Homo sapiens: one gene and its partners. The protein of the gene in region 1 purifies or fractionates together with the protein of each later gene. This does not show direct contact. Each region holds a gene or a part of one and is shown on either strand. Other genes may lie near its edges.

What was found.
Region 2: the proteins of ISG20 (region 1) and NCAM1 purify together in Homo sapiens (affinity purification with mass spectrometry; one large-scale study listed by BioGRID and IntAct). This does not show direct contact.
Region 3: the proteins of ISG20 (region 1) and ERICH5 purify together in Homo sapiens (affinity purification with mass spectrometry; one large-scale study listed by BioGRID and IntAct). This does not show direct contact.

Annotation. Positions count from the first base shown.
Region 1 is NC_000015.10:88,652,368-88,656,015, forward strand, and holds part of ISG20 (interferon-stimulated gene 20 kDa protein), read left to right. Parts: intron 1-3,047; coding exon 3,048-3,164; 3' UTR 3,165-3,648.
Region 2 is NC_000011.10:113,202,367-113,206,014, reverse strand, and holds part of NCAM1 (neural cell adhesion molecule 1 isoform 2 precursor), read right to left. Parts: intron 3,637-3,648; coding exon 3,562-3,636; intron 1,730-3,561; coding exon 1,511-1,729; intron 493-1,510; coding exon 349-492; intron 1-348.
Region 3 is NC_000008.11:98,063,318-98,067,480, forward strand, and holds the start of ERICH5 (glutamate-rich protein 5), read left to right. Parts: upstream 1-1,250; 5' UTR 1,251-1,352; coding exon 1,353-1,410; intron 1,411-4,163.

The DNA of each region.
Region 1 (3,648 bases):
CTCACCCATCTCCATTTCCTCCCCCTCCTCCCCCTCCTCCTCCCCCTCCTCCTCCCCCTCCTCCTTCTCCTCCTCCTTCTCCTCCCTCCTCCCCCTCCTCCTCCCCCTCCTCCTCCCCCTCCTCCTTCCCCTCCTCCTTCCCCTCCTCCTTCCCCTCCTCCCCCTTCCCCTCCCCCTTTGCCCTCCTCCCCTTCCTCCTCCCCCTCCCCCTCCCCCACCTCCTCGCTCTTCTCCCCTTCTTCCCCTTCCTCCTCCCCTGTCCCCTCCCTTTCCTCCTCCTCCCTCATGCCCTCGCACACCTCAGGGCAGCTTGCCTGAGGCATTGATGGTAGGTCCTGCTGTGCCTGGTCCCTGGCTGGTAGAGTGAGGATGAGGGCAGGGAAGGGAAAACACCCAACAAAGGTTTGCTTTTGTTGTTGAAATCAAGCCAGTTACCCTGTGGGAAGTGAAGCTTGCTCCCACCATAGAACTCTGGGCAATGATGTAAAGCACACACCTCACCTCAGATATGTCTCACAGCAGGGGCCGGGGAACTGGGATATTTGTACACCAGTTCCCATCAGCCACCAGCTGCTGCTGCTCCTGGGCACTGATTCCGCAGCACTTCTGGCTGGTGGGCAAAGCAGGCAGGAAAAGGCATACGGATATGGGGGGTTGGGAGTTCACCCTGTGGGAAGGGCAGAGGGAGAGGCGCCAGACACTAAGAGCCAGGGCTGTACACAGGGACCCTTCAGGTCAACAGCTCTTTATTAAACACCTGCTGCCTGCTCTAGGCCAGATCCTAGAGACGCAGGGTGAGCAAGACCCGTCTCTGTCCCTGAGCTCTTGGTTGGTTGGGAGGTGGCCCTTAACCAGATCATCAGCACACATGGTAAGGAGTGTGTGACGGAGGGAAGGGCAGTGCCCTGGGAGCAGGATGAAGGATGGGGCTGGCAGGGCAGGAGACCAGATCTGAACAGAGCCTGGAGGGTCTTAGTCAAGGAGGGCAGAAGAAGGCATACAGAGTGGGGCCAGGTGAGTCAAAGCCTGAGGCTCGGGGAGGGGCTGGGGAGCACGGAGCCCGCCCCTAGCCTGCTGGCAAGAGCTGTAGGAATCATGTCCGGAGTAGGGAACAGGGCTGAGTCTGGGCCTGTTAGCCTCAAGGCACATAAGGCACATAAGGGCCAGGCTGGGCTTTTCCTGGAGCCCTTGCCGCTCTGTGGCTCTCAGTCTGGGGCCTTAAGCCTGACCCAGGGCCTTCTCCCAGGCTCTGTCCCTGGGCTCATTAAGCCTGGTTGTTCCAGAAGCTCAGTACCCCACCAGGCAGCTCCTGCCTGCACTGATGCCCCTAGAAACCAGCCCTCCCGCCCGCCCCCGCTCACATGGACAGTGGTGCTACTGATCACTGTGACCAGAACTGACCCACAGGACACAAGGAGCTAACATGGTAGAGCTGTCACAGTTGGGCAGTGGTGTTACTGCCCCTCGAGGGAGTGAAATAGCAGGCCTGTGGCTCCCTGCCAAGCTGCGCGCATGGTAGACTGGGCTGCACAGGAAAGGAAAGACCCTGCCATTTATGAAGCCCTGTGGAGGGTGCTGGGCACAGTTCTCTCATTCCATCCTTTAAGGCAGGTATAATCAGGCCCATTTCACAGAAGAGGAAACAGAGGCCCAGAGAGGAAAAGTGACTTGCCCACGGTCACAGAGCTCATAAGCAGGGGAGCTGGGAATTGCAGCCTGGGGTTTGTCTGATTCCAAATCCGGGGCTCTTTACCTCCCCACTTGGTAATAAAGGGTGCTGGTGCTGCATTCTGCTTCTGTTCTTGGCTTCCTTCTCCATAGAGCAGAGTGGTAGAACACATAACCTCCCTGTGCCTCAGTTTCCTCATCTGTCAAGGATGGTGACAGGGGCAGGTATGCAGAGGCACAGCGCAGACGACGCCACCATGCTACCTGCTTGCTGATTAATGATAGGGTGTCCAAGCCAAAAAATAAAACTAAACATTAAAAAATAAAACAATACAGCGTAATAACGGCAACAAGAAAAAGCCTTTTTGAGCTGGGCCGTCTAACCAGGTGTCCCCAACACCCTGTCTGGAGTGCCTGGAAAAGGAGCCCCTGTGAGAACAGGAAGTCCTCTCTCGACAGAGGGACACCAAGAAAACGCAGCCAGGTCCAACAGCCCGCTGGCTCCCATGCTGGGTACCGGCCAGGACACCAGGGCTGAGCGGGGCATGCGAAGGGAGATGAAAGGTGACTGCACTGAGGATTTGCCCTGTGTACTCGCCTCTGCAAGATCCACATCTCAGCTGCACAACTGGCTGGCTTGTGTGTGAGCCTCAGTTTTATCATCAGTAAAATGGGGGAATAATCATATCCAGCTCAGAGGTTTAACTTCAGCCTAGTGCACGGAAGACATGGTAAATGGTCATCGCTTCTCCCTTGAATGGACCGAGGGCCCCCGACTCCCATAGCACTACCCCATAAAGTCTAGGCTCCCGACTTCGGCATTCAAGGCCTTCAGTGATAAATCCAGGCCCACCATCCGTCCCCACACCACCTTTCACACACCCCCTGCCCCCACCCTCGCAGGCCTCTTATTTTAGCTGCACATGCTCTCCCTGCCTCCGAAATGCTTGCGGCCTTTCCTTTCCATTTATTGACGCCCTTGTGTTCTCTCTGAGCAGCCCTTCCCTGTGTCCCTAGCTGGAGTTCCTCACTCCCTCCTCAGTGTCCTGAAGCTTCTTGTTAGAGCTGCTGCAGCCACTGCGTGTGTCTGACAGCAAGTCTGCAGCCTCTGCCTCCCTTGCGGGACTGCAGGTGACTTGAAGGCACAGCCTGGTTCCCAGGAGGCTGGCTTTCGTGCCACTGGCCCCAGGGCTGAAGGCAGGCCAGCTCCAGCCACCTGCTGAGTCTCCTAAGTCCAGAGTGTCAGAGACCTCAAGAGACTCTCACCCACTGACCCACCTGGGGACTCTGGAAATCGGGATGTGACCAGGGAAGACCCTGTCACGGGGCCTCTGAATTCAGCCTCATCCCAAGTCCCCACTCTATACTTGTGTCTGCAGAACAGCCTGCTTGGACACAGCTCGGTGGAAGATGCGAGGGCAACGATGGAGCTCTATCAAATCTCCCAGAGAATCCGAGCCCGCCGAGGGCTGCCCCGCCTGGCTGTGTCAGACTGAAGCCCCATCCAGCCCGTTCCGCAGGGACTAGAGGCTTTCGGCTTTTTGGGACAGCAACTACCTTGCTTTTGGAAAATACATTTTTAATAGTAAAGTGGCTCTATATTTTCTCTACGCCATCACTGGGTCCTCTTCTTATTCTTCTCTCCAAGCTGGGTTAACAGTAGACAGGACCCATTTCTGTGTGATGTTAGGAGGGAATGAAGTCTTATGCTGGGGAGGTGGGCAAGTATCAATTTCCTTAATATCTTGAATCCTGTGGGTCCAAAATGTGGCTTGGAAATCTAAGTAGCATGTGGCTTAATTACTAATCCCACCCTTTGCTGTTGCATCCCAGCCCTATTCCTGGTGCATTTATGCCCAGAGAGGTGGCATTATTTCCTGGGGTGGCATTCAGCTCCTCTTGAGTTGGTGCCACAGCATTTGTGGGCTTTGAAGCAAAGGTACAGGAAATGTCAAGGGTGCCACCCCGGCAACCTTGAGC
Region 2 (3,648 bases), on another chromosome or scaffold:
AAGAATCAGTCAGAGAGCATCTGCAGGCAGGTGGCTGAGTCTCTTTCCTTTTTCCTAACTTCAGTATCATAGGGTGGGGTTTTAAGCCCAAATAAGAAAATGCGTCCCTGGCTTTGAAATACAGCCAAGAGTAAATGTCTATTAGAAATTTGTCTTTCGTACTGGAGAGAAAATCAGGTACCTAAGTATACCAACTTCAGATATGCATCTATTCAGGACCCAGAAACCACATGAGGGTTCGGGCACACATGAATTGGAGTTTGGACTGGAATGCCTCAGTACAGGTGAAAAAGCTAGGGAACTTGGTGGCCTGGGGAAAAGGCAGATGCCAGGAAATTCAGGTCTCACCATCTTTTTTCAGGATGACATCTCGGCCTTTGTGTTTCCAGATGATGGTTGGTGGGAGGGAGCTGACCACATCACACACAATCACGGCATCTTCCCCCTCCCGGAACTCCTGTGGGGTTGGCGCATTCTTGAACATGAGCTTCTCTGGAAGATGAACAGAAGAGTGAGGGAAAACAGCTGCTTCTCTCACAAAGAACCCCTTTCACTAGAGCCATGGTACCTGGACTTGAGTCCTGGGCAAGTCTCGATCCTGATGTACAGTTGTATAAGAGGGGCACCCTCAGAGACGTCAGGCAGAGCAGCTGGCCCAAGCATAGGTTACCAATGCTTGGCAACCAATATCTGCTCATTGAGTGCTAAATTTATCACATTTTGTGCAGAAAAGGGTCTACAGAATGAAAGGAATATCTTCACCAAGGGTTCCTTGTCATGCAGGATGATGCCAGTGAAGCACAGGTTATAGGTAGAATGAACTGGTGGAACATCCATTCCACAACGAATAGTAAGAATCATCAGTCCTTTTCTTGTCTCCCACTCGAACTGCTACTCCCAGTCCCACCCCAACTTTCCTACGGCAGACAGAATGCTGATGAAAAGAACAGGAAAAAAGCACATTTAATGGCAATAAATACCGTGCAATCAATACTGTTCCATTAGCTGTCACCCACCATTACTCCAACCACTGGGATGGATGCATGATATAAATAACAAGGTAACGAGATGCCACCTACAGATGGGGTTTCAGAGGCAATAGGAACTGCCTGCTCTGAGTGGCAGAGAGTGTTCAGATAATGATCCCCCACCCCACTGAGCCCTGGGCTCCATTACCAGCAGGGGAGAGGGAAATAAGAAGGGAGAGGAGCCCAAATTGCAGAACAGTCAGCCAACATTTGGGGAAGGGATAGAGAAACCCGTAATAGCCCTCTGGGAACTATGTAATTTGAATTTTGAGAATGAACGCCTGTGGGGGAGTAGCTGTGACCAGTGTGAACCAGGGTTGTGAGTTCTGGGTTGGCCAAGGTCAGAAAAGACTTAGGGAGAGAGAATGGGACTGGTTAGGCCCTCAGCTGGTCCTTCTGTCATCATTTCCACCTTTCCACTACCCACATGTCTCCTTGGCAAGGAGAGGCCAGAGAATGCAGAAGAAGAAGGAGGCTCTTACGAAAGATCTTCACGTTGACGGTGGCCTCTGACTCACTGCCATCCTCGCCTGTAACCACACACTTGTAAATGCCGGCGTCGTCGATGTTGGCGTTATAGATGGTGAGGGTGGAGGAGGAATCATCATTCCACACCACTGAGATCCGCTGCTGGTTTGGGGTGAGCTTTTCTCCATTGGGGGAGAACCAGGAGATGTCTTTATCTTTGGCATCTCCTGCCACTAAAGAGGAAGAGATTATTTTTAAGCTACTGAAGTCGAAAAGACTAATAAGTCCCCTCCAGACTGACAGTGGCTGATCAGTAAGAGTTACTGAACAACAGATCAGTCAAGGCTTGAACATCAGGGAGGGGTGAGTATGGCTGCTGGAATGACATGCAGCCCTTCTTTGGCCTCTGCATTTAACTATTATATACTTAACACCTCTTACAATATTTGGAAAGAACTCAACAACCACTTGTACTAGTTGTTATCATGGTCCTATCCCTAATGATGGAAGAGAAGAGATACTTGTTGAGAACATACTGTGTGCTGGGCACTAAGCTAGGAACACACATGCCTCACACAACGGGTAACCAAGGGAATTAGTGTATTTAGGATTCGGGCGCCAGAGCCTAACTGGTCTGAGTCTACTGATCAGCTTGTTTTTGAAGCCTTGGATAATGGGTCTCCTGAGATGAAGGCGAGAAATACTGGCTAGTATAGGAGTGCAGATTCCAACCACTTTTTATTTCATTTTTTCCAGCCACATTTATTCTAGCATCTGCCTGCACAAACTGGCATGACTGTCATTTCGTCACTCCCTGCTCAGACAAATTCATTTCCTTGCATGCTGCAAAGAAGGTAGCCAGAACCACCCATTCTTCCTTTCCCCAGGCAGCAATGAGGAGGAACAGACTGTGGTGGCTGAGCTGCCCCCGGCACTGAGCTGGAACAGGGCTCTGACACTGAAACTGCCCAGGACACTGAGCTGGAAGGGCGCTCAGATCCGGCGGATGTGGCGGCGCCCTGCCTGTTTGCATGGGCCCCTGCCTCTTCGCGTGGCGCCCTTCTCAGCCTGCACCACCCAGCCCTGCACAGATGCTTAGTATGGAAATGAAGCAGTCTTCCTTTCAGGGCCCATCATGTTTTCAATAAATATCGCTATTTGCAAGATGTGCTGTGGGCTCCACGGCTGCGTCTCCAGATCATTGAAATTGCTGTAATGAAGGCAAAGCTGGAGTGAACACATCCGACGGCCACAAGCCACCTCGTCCACGCAAATCATGACAGCATTTAAAGGCCCCTCCCTGCCAAAAGCTGCTTGCTAAATGTCACCATTTACACCTAGCTCAGCTCTTTCCTGGTTCTTCCATGTTCTGAATCCCAGTCATGTCATATACAGAGAATCTGAGGCTTAATTTGAAACCTTTTCCTCCACAGGACATTTTCTGGCAATTATCTGGGCTGTGGAAATGGGGCATGTTTTCTAAATGTAAAACAAGGTCACCAGGTCTGGCATATCTCAGAGCTCTGGTGGGGACCATGGCACAGAATATCGATATTCACAATAGACCTGGTAAACCCAGGATATATGTCCTCACAACAAAAGCCATACCAGTATTCTATTTACCTACAGGCAAGTTTTAGACTTAGATTTTCAAGCTCTGGGGAATTCTAAGAAATAAGCCTTAAACAGATCCACCGAAGTATTGTTTCTGAGCCAGTGCTGTTCTCCATTGTCATTTACAGAACTCTGAATGTATACAGAATAGGAGATGGGGGATGATTCACTATTCTGGAAGTTGTGCTGATTTTTCTAAGAAAACTCCTAGACTTCCTCTGTAGTCAAGGTGAAGTCTAGATGACAGATTTGCTATGTTGAGGCAGATTTTTGCAAAAGGAAGGAAGAGGCCCTGGCTCTTAAATGGCCATACTATTGACCCTGTAATAGAGCAATGCCAAGAATTCTAGGTGTGGCTTGACCAGCCAGCTCACATGGCCTGAGGGCTCCTGCTCTACCCAGTGAGTTTCTGAAGCAAGTTCTAAAATGCAGCTGAGCACTAGGCACTTGCCTTGGCATAAGAAGAATTTGGACTCTCCAACGCTGATCTCCCCCTGGCTGGGAACAATATCCACCTGCAGAGAAACTGAAAAAACAA
Region 3 (4,163 bases), on another chromosome or scaffold:
CACTCCAGCCTGGGCAACAAGAATGAAACCGTGTCTCAAATTAAAAAAAAAAAAAGCCTGTTCTCACCGGGTGCGGTGGCTGACATGTGTAATCCCAGCACTTTGGGAGTCCCACGCGGGCGGATCACCTGCGATCAGGAGTTCAAGACCAGCCTGGCCAACATGGTGAAACGCCGTCTCTACTAAAAAATACAAAAAATAGCCAGACGTGGTGGCGCATGCCTGTAATTCCAGCTACTCAGGAGGCTGAAGCAGGGAGAGTTTCTTGAACCAGGGAGGTGGAGGTTGCAGTGAGCTGAGATCTCGCCACTACACTCCAGTCTTGGTGACACAGTGAGACTCCATCTCCGGAAAAAAAAAAAAAAAAAAAAAGGCCGAGCGCAGTGGCTCATGCCTGTAATCCCAGCACTTTGAGAGGCCGAAGCGGGTGGATCACCTGAGGTCAGGAGTTCGAAACCAGCCTGACCAATATGGTGAAACCCCGTCTCTACTAAAATTACAAAAATTAGCTGGGCACGGTGGCAGGCGCCTGTAATCCCAGCTGCTCTGGAGGCTGAGGCTGGAGAATCGCTTGAACCCGGGAGGCAGAGGTTGCAGTGAGCCGAGATTGCGCCACTACACTCCAGCCTGGGCAACAGAGAGAGACTCGGTTTCAAAAAAAAAAAAAAATCTATTCTCTTAATAAATGTCAAAGTCATAACGACAAAGCAAGACTGGAGGAACTACTTCAGATTAAAGCAAACTAAAGAGAGACACAACTAAATGCAACGTGCAGTCCTGGATTGGACAATTGGCAAAAAGGGAACATGGAGGGTGGATTAAATCGTACTGTATCAAAGTTAAACTTCCTTGTGGTAATTGTAGTTATGTAAGAAAATAAGACTGTCATCGCACATCTAGTCTACCAATCAATAGCCCCTAGTCCCAAGGCCGCCTCGCCTCCCTGGCTATTTAGTGATGAGTCAGATGATACCTCCCAGCGCTTCGCCCTCGCCCCCTGACATCCTCCCTATCCCTGCTTTAGGGGCTTTTCCTCTCTTACTGTGCCATACCCTCCACCGTCTCCCCTCCTGTCTCCTGGGCTCTACTCCTCCCTGCCCTCCTCTGCGTCCTGGCCCTCCCGCTCTCTTCCGCTTTGCGCTCCCAGGCTCCTTCCACCTCCTGCCAGCTCCCTTCCTCCTCCAGGTGCGCACCCCCTACCATTAGCCCCGCTGCGCGCTTGCGCTCTACGCCCAAGGGAGCCGGGCTGCAGAGCTGGAGAAACTTCCGCGGCTACGGGTGCAGTTGCCTTCGGTTCCCGGTTCCGGGCCGACACCCGCGCAGGGCTGAGACAGGTGTCTGCGCTCCCCGCAATGGGCTGCTCCAGCAGCGCCCTCAACAAGGCCGGCGACAGCAGCAGGTTCCCCAGCGGTGAGCAGGGTACCGGCGCCGCCCGCGCCCGGGCTGGGGACTCGGGTGGGCTAACTCCCCAGGAGGTCCAAAGGGTGTGTCCCGTGGCCACCCCGCCTGGCAGGAGCCGGGCCTTGTCCCGGAGGATGCGAGCAGAACCCGGGACAAAGCGCGATTTCCTTCCAAATCTGGAGCGGCGCTGCTGTGACCGCGGGTGCGGCGGCCCTGGTGCGCTCCGCGGCGCTCGCTGCGAGACGCGCGGGGCCCGAGGCCGGGCGCTGGATTCACCCTGTCCGCTGATGGGATCTCGGGGAGTTGGTGTTGAGGCCCTAAGGCGGTTAGCCTCGGCATTGCCTTAAACACAGGAGAAATGTCCTATCAAGGCCTTCTACCAAGGCTGGGGGCGGTGGCTGACGACTGCAATCTCAGCACTTTGGGAGGCTGAGGCGGGACGATCTCTTGAGACCAGAAGTTCGAGAAAAACCTGGGTAACAAAGCGAGATCTTCCGCTCCCCCGTCTCTACTAAAACACCAACAAAAAAGACTTTTCCCCATTTACCCTCCCATTAGCGTTTCAGCATCAAAGATGGCAAAAGATGCGGAGAATCCAGAGGAGCATTCACTCCATCAAATGGGTCCCTGCACTCTGAATAGGTCAGACACACTTTCCCCTATCTTCGGCTTAAGTATCAGTTGAGAAGTATGTGTGATCAAAAGTGGTCATCACTGACTCTTGCTGAAGAAACTCAACAAGGACATTTTGAGCATCTGCTATATAATACCCCAGTGCTTGGCTAGATGCTGGAGATACAAGTGACCCTGTTTGTAGAGATTGAAGATAGAAGAGACAGAAAAGAAACACGTGAAACAATTGGCTAAGATCGTTTCTGACAGTGATAAGTACTGTGAAAAGTATAAACGCAGTTACATGAATTAGAGAATGACAGGGTTTTACAGCCGACTCACTTTTCTTAGATTTTGAATGGCTAAAATTTTGGACAATGCTATGGAGGTTAAGCAAACTCCGTCAAGCTAGTTTACAGTCTTCTGCAAGGCGAACTTTAGCGGGGATTTTGTACTGGAGTGAATTCCTTTTCACAGATTTTCTCTTAGCACCTTGTGTTATTGCAGTAACAGAAATGTCTTCCTCTGATGTTGTTGGTAGAGCGCACCAGACGGTGAGGAATGCTTTTCAAAGCTCAGCCGCTGTGTCCTAGTCAGAAATATGTTGTGTTGCTGTTATTTTTGTGGTGTATGAGAATTTATTTCTAGTTTCCATAGATAACGGAAAGCAATGACAAGTCAGGAAGTAAACAAAAAATTAAAAGCATTATAAAAGTAAACCCCTTCTCACTGACAACAATGTGAAAAGATGGAAAAATTCATTTCTAATGCACAGTGCTCACTAACTTTTCTCCTAAAGAACCCAGAGCTTCCATACCTGCAACAAGAGGACAGAGCAAGGAGTTTCTCCGATGTTTCGATGTTTCGTGTTTTATGTTATGAAATTAAGTAGAGTTTTGCATTCTGTTCTATGATAGATTTTTGTGGGTTTCAATATGAAAAGCCGAGGGAAAACAGATGCTTCAGGAAGATACATTTTATTATTCTGACTTCTCTACCCCATGCTGTGCTTCAGTTATCCTAGGAGTAGCATCCTGGTTTAACAAGCAGAGTACTGAGTCACCATTACATAGTTTTAAACTGATTAAAACATGTATTTCAGGGAATGTAACTTTGGGGCAAAAGTATTCAGTAGGTGGAATGCAGTTTTTAATCCTCTCAGAAAATAATGAATAACTTTATCTTTAAAAATATTTTATCATCAATATTAATAACTATTCCACGTGAGTTACACTCTTCCATTTTTTATTCTTGCTTTCATTGCTGTTCTGAGTTTTCATAGGTGTTGTTATGGAAGAGATGTTAAAATGCCTGACAGCCAGTTCTAGCCCTTAGAAAATTAACCTAATATGCGGCGTAAATTGCTCAACACACACGTTGAATCAATCAACAGGTCTATTTGCTTCTAACCCTCGATCAAACAATACTCTCTTGTAATTAGATACTATTCTGTGTTCATCAACATTTCAGCTTCATGATCTTAGGCCCGATAAATAATTCATTCCTGTTTCTGCACCTTGCAACTTCTTTAAATCCTATATACAACCTCAAGCTTGTGTGTACATACTTTTAGACAAAAACAGTTCAAGTTTATTACATGTCTGGTACATGCATTTATTCACTGTACTCTCAGTGCCTAACAACGCTTGGCATATAATAGGTCCTCAGTAATTATTTGTTGAATGAATTACTTCATTTAATCCTTATAACAATGTTATGACTAAATATTATGGTTGTCCTGTTTTTACAGATAAGAGTAAATAATTTATCCAAGGTCACAGAGCTTCTAAGAATCAGAGCTGGGCTTTGAACTCATATGCTTTGTTGGGCACAGTGGCTCATGCTTATAATCCCAATGGCTCTGGAGGCTGATATGAGAGGATTGCTTGAGGCCAGGAGTTCAAGGCCAGCCTGGGAAACATAGTAAGACCCTGTATCTAAAAATTTTTGTAAAAAAATTAAAACATGTATTTCAGGGAATGTAACTCTTGGTGGTACAGGCCAGTAGTCCCAGCTACTCAGGAGGCTGAGGTGAGAGGATTGCTTGAGCCCAGGAGTTCAAGGCTGCAGTGAAGTATGATTGAGCCATTGCACTTCAGTCTGGGCAACAGAGTGAGACTCAATTAAAAAAAAAAAAAAAGAAACTATAT